Linked DNA regions of Homo sapiens: region 1 is linked to region 2. Evidence: fine-mapped expression QTL. Tissue or cell type: blood mononuclear cells. Region 2 holds a variant in brackets; the other region holds the start of a gene. All regions are shown on one strand. Distances are between the middles of the regions.

Region 1 (2,500 bases), 31 kb before region 2:
AAGAAAGGTGAAGAGAGCTTGGAGAAAGGAAAGATGGATGGGTGACAGGCAGGCAGAGAACAAAGCTCAGAGCCCCGGGGGCTGTTTAGTCTCGGCCCCTGTAAGGCTGCAAAGTGCCAGTGACTCAGACGTGGAGGGAGGCTCACAGGCTGCAGCGCGCGAGGCTCCCACATTAACCCTCACCTGCCTGGAATCGAAAAGCCACAATGGAAGCACTCGGCATTAACCCTCAGCTGCCCAGTCCTTGAGCCCCAGGGCCAAGGGCTGTGGACATGGCCTTGAGATCCCCGGGAAAGCCCCGCCCCCCAGAATCTGGTTACGTGAGGCTCAGCCTTCTGATGCCCGGTGGTGAACTTGCCCAGAGAGCACCTAAATACCGCGGAGTGGCCAAAGGCTTGAGCGCCCAGCGACAGACAAGTGTCCTAAGAATTGGTGCCTCTTCTAGGGAAAAGGAGGCCTGGGCTCCAAGGCCTTAAAGACTCGCCTAATTTTCCGCACGGATGAGTAGACCCAGGCCCAGTTCGGATCCGTCTTTATCTTATCGTCTGTGTCAGAGAAATATGTCATATTTCCAATCTCTGGCGGCAAGAAAATGCCGAGCTCTTTTGCTATTGAAAAAAAAAAGGGAAGAAAACACTGCGGCCCTAATCCTGCCCAATACAACCCAGAACCCAGCCTTGGGTGTTGCCCCGAGGGCGCAGCGCCGCTCCCATCGGCGCTGGGGGTCCAAGCGGCCCTGGGGCCCCGCAGGCCCGGGCTGAGGCCACCCCTCTGTTCCCGCGTCGGTGGCCCTGAGCGCACGGCGCTCGGAACTCGGAGGTGCCAGAGGCTCGGGCAAAGCAGGCCTGGGGAGGGCGCGAAGCCGCGTTGTTCCGATCCTCAGCCACCTGAGTCCCAGCCTGGAACCTTCGGACCCTCGCGTTCGGCCCGAACGTTCGGGCCCCCTCGGTGCCAGGCGCCCCGAGTGCCGCGGCGCGCCGGGCGCGGGCTGGGAGCGGCGGACTGCGGGCGGGACAGCGCCCCCGCTCCTCCCGTGGGAGAGCGCGCGCCCCTCCAGGAAGCTCCCGCCTCGCCTCCCACTTCCCTCCCCACTCCCCTCCTCGGCCGGAGGGAGGAGCCCGAGCCGCCGCCGCCGCCGCCGCCCGCCCGCCCGGCCCGGGAGGAGGACCGGACCCCGAGCGGCTGGGAGCGCACGCGAGCGGGCCGTGGCCGCGCGGGCAGCGCCCTGAGCCTGTCCCGCGCCCGCGGGCCCGGCCGAGCAGGAGCAGCTCCCGGGGATGCCCGGGCGGCTCGGAGCGCGGGCAGCGGCAGCCGTGCGGTGAGGGCGGTGGCGCCCGCGGGACCTGCGGTGAGTGGGGCCCGGGCAGGCGGGGCAGCTTGGCGTGAGTGCCCAACTTCGGCCTTGGGGCTGGGCTCTTTGATCCAGCTGCGGGTCCGAAGGAACCCGGGTTCCGCCTCGGGGGGCTGCGGCGCTCTAGCCCCCGCCGCCAGCGCGAACCCGGACTCCGGCGCTTCGGTGACTCAGCTCCGACCCGGCCACGCGGGGGCGCCCCGCCGGCTCCCGGACTGCGGGGAAGGGCGGGCGGGGTCCCTGGGGAGGGGGGCGCCCTCGGGGGTCCGAGCCCAGCTGCTTTGGGGACCCTTCCACCCGCCCCGAGGGGCTTGGAGGGCGTACGGGAGGTGGAGACCCGCCGCTGCCGCAGCTGCTGAAGGCGTGAGGTCGCCCTGGCTCTCGGCGGGCGCTGGCTCCTCTCCGCTCCCCTCTGCCCTCCTCCCACCCCTCAACACCCACCCCCTGCCCCAGGCAACTGCCGGAGGGCCGGCTCCCAGCCCCGGTACTGGGAGCGCAGAGGGGGAGTGGAGCTGGGCAGCTTCCCAGAAGTCGGAGTGTGTTTGCAAACTAGTTTTTGCGAAAAAGCTGTCTGGCACCTGTGTGTTTAAAGGGGGTGTGGGGGTGGGCATGGAGAGAGCGGGCGAACAAGGCCCTCTCTTATTCCCCGTTTCTCACAGCGATGCTCCTCTGAAAATAGAGGGGTCTTACACCCTCTTCCCTGCTCTTCCCACCCCATCCCCCAGCCTCGCTCCACGTCCCCCCGAGTTCAAGAAGCTCTCCTATGGGGAAGGGGCTGCTTCAAAGGGGGCTGTGATTTGCCCAAGGTCACAGATGCTGCTGGCTCTGGTAGCTAATAGGGTGTTCATCTTGCATCTGAATCCCCTGCCCCATATGTACTGGGGGAAGGGACAAGGGGTCTGGAAGAATGATCTTCCAGACAAAACGCCCTTTTTTTTGTCTGCCTTAGTTTTTTGCTCCCTTAGAGGTGTGTGCTGTCATCAAAGGTTGGGGGGCTTTTTCTGCCCCTTGGGCATCCACAGCTTCACGGACTGCAGGGAGCCCATGGTTTTCAGGAAACAGGCGGTGTGCGCAGATTGTAATCCCTGGCAGCTGCAGCCTGCCCTGATGGGGAGGCCTGGGAGACCTGGGTCTGAACCCCACCTATGA
Region 2 (2,500 bases):
TCCCTGTATTATTGTTTTTTGTTTTTGTTTTTGAGACAGAGTCTCACTGTGTTGCCCAGGCTGGAGTGCAGTGGCGTGATCTCAGCTCACTGCAACCTCCGCCTTCCAGGTTCAAGGGATTCTCCTGCCTCAGCCTCCCAAATAGCTGGGATTACAGGTGCATGCCACTACGCCTGGCTAATTTTTGTGTTTTTAGTAGAGATGGGGTTTCATTATGTCGACCAGGCTGGTCTTGAACTCCTGACCTCAAGTGATTTGCCTGCCTTGGCCTCCCAAACTGCTAGGATTACAGGAATGAGCCACTATACCTGGCCTGTTTCTTTTCTCTTTTTTTTTTTTTTTAACTTAAATACATTTATTTAGAAAGAGATTATTAGAACTCTACCAAAATTAAAAGATCTGCCTTCTTTGCCAAAAAGAGACAAAGACCATCAAAACAACTTCTAGAGGAAGGCCTTGAGCTGGAGGCCTGCTCTTTCTCTTTGTTAAAAAGGTAGATTAATAAGGGCCAGGAGAAGGTAAGTACCTAACAGTGACAAATTGAGACACTCTGTGTCAGGTAACTGACACTGGGCCCTGGCACCCTGCCTGGAACCAGCATGTGTCTGTGTATCTGTGGGGTGTGGGGGTCTCTGTGAGTCCCCCACCCATTAGGAACCATTGCACTGAAGGCTTTGTTATAGAGAGATTTGGGTTTTGTTGTAATTAGATCAGGCCCATCAGCTTTTTTTGACCTCCTTGTCCCTACTGAGGTTGCAGGACATAGAGCAACAACTCCCCCATGGGGAGTGTGACCAAGTCAAGGGGACCCACTGACTCATCCGCTTTCTTCCAGATAAACCGAGACTACTCCTTCCTTGACTACATCCTGGGAGGCTGCCAGCTCATGTTCACCGTAAGGCTCTCCCCGCTGGCTCCCTCTGCACCCCCATCCCAGTGAGGGTCCTCCCTGAAGACTTGGGCCACTAGTGCAGCCAGAGGGACTTAGGGTAGACTTCAGGAAGGACTTCCCTGGGGCAAAGAGTGTGTGCGGCCTAGTGAGGAGGGCATAAGTGGGCTGTCTGGTCCTGCTGGGTGTGCCTGAGTTGGGGCTTAACTACAGGTCAGAGCACAGCTGCACAGCTTTCAGTCTGGTGGCTACACTCCTTCTGCGGGTGGAGGAAAACAAATTCCTCCTCACTGGCCACAAGGCCTTCAGCGATCCCTGCCTCCTTCATCTGCAGCCTCCTTCCTCCTTGCTCACTGGGCTCTAACCACACTCTTCCTCTGTTTGCCCAACATGCCAAGCTTTGCTTCATGTTAGAACTTTGCATTTGCTGTTCCTTCTGCATTTGTTGT[TC/T]CCTCTGCCTGAAACACTTCCCCAGAACCTTTGCATGGCTGCCTACCTGCCATTTTTCAGGCCTGAGGAGGTAACGGAGGTCACCTTCCAGGGAGCCCTCCCTCCCTCAATGCCTTGCTGCTCCTCTGTCATATCTTCCTATTTTCTTTCTTTTCTTTTCTTTTCTTTTCTTTTTTTTTTTTGAGACAGCGTCTCATTCTGTCACGTGGTCTAGAGTGCAGTGGCACGATCTCAGATCACTGCAGCCTCCACCTTCAGCTCTCAGTTGATCCTCCCACCTCAGCTTCCTGAGTAGCTGGGATTACAGGTGCATGCCATCATGCCCAGCTAATTTTTGCATTTTCTGTAGAGATGGGGTTTTGCTATGTTGCCCAGGCTGGTCTCAAACTCCTGGGCTCAAGCGATCTGCCCACCTTGGCCTCTCAAAGTGCTAGGATTACAGGCATGAGTCACTGGGCCTGGCCCTCACTATTTTCCTATTTTCTGGGCACTTGCCGCCCCGAGATTCATATGCATTTGTCGCTTCTCCCTGATCGTCGCACCCACTGGAATGTGAGTGCTTTTAAGTGTGGGCACTTTGTTTATTTTGCTTCCACTCCAACCCCAGCATATCACACAGTAACTGGCACATAGCAGGTGCTCCATCATTTCTCGTTGGAAGAATGAACTGCCACCTTGCCTGTGGCCTGGAGTCTTTGCCCCACAGACTCTGTGCCACTCATCCTGGCTTTGCTTCCTCACCCCAAGGGAGCCTCAGGCCCAGAAGGGAGGAAGCTGCTGGGGTGCCACGCTCTGCCCACCTCCCCATGTTGTCTCACCGTTCCCCATCACCACCCCTAGATCCTAATGGGAAATGGAGGGCATCACAGGATGCCATGGAGTCAGAGGATTGGCCTTGCTGACTTCTGACCCTGCTGCCCACCACTGCCCCCTCCCCTGCACAGAGGCCAGGCCCTCCTGTTCCTCCTGCACGAGTTTGTTCATTCAGCGAACTCACACTGACTGCCTCCTTTGTGCCGGGCTCTAGGCTGTGTCCCTGCAGCGGTCCCTCAAGGACTAAGACATGCTGCCCCTGACCTGGGGGAGTGACCCTCTAGCCATGTGAGGATTTGGATGGGTGGCCCCTTCTCTCCTACCCCACAGCAACTGAGTTCCCATGTA

What was found. PIP is the estimated chance that this variant, and not a neighbour inherited with it, causes the effect.
Region 1: CPNE2 starts here. The variant in region 2 is fine-mapped to the expression of CPNE2 in blood mononuclear cells (TOPMed, PIP 0.99). The same link has a PIP of 0.9 or more in whole blood.

The regions. Positions count from the first base shown.
Region 1 is chr16:57,091,443-57,093,942 of GRCh38, forward strand. It overlaps CPNE2 (copine 2), which reads left to right and starts at 1,141. Exons shown (of 16, transcript NM_152727.6): 1 at 1,141-1,348. RefSeq lists silencers at 663-732, 753-1,002, 1,113-1,162, 1,223-1,632.
Region 2 is chr16:57,122,579-57,125,078 of GRCh38, forward strand. It overlaps CPNE2 (copine 2), which reads left to right. Exons shown (of 16, transcript NM_152727.6): 10 at 836-895. Among named protein-coding and RNA genes, the nearest start is that of CPNE2, 31 kb to the left of the region's middle. The variant TC/T (reference allele first, on the strand shown) is at 1,339.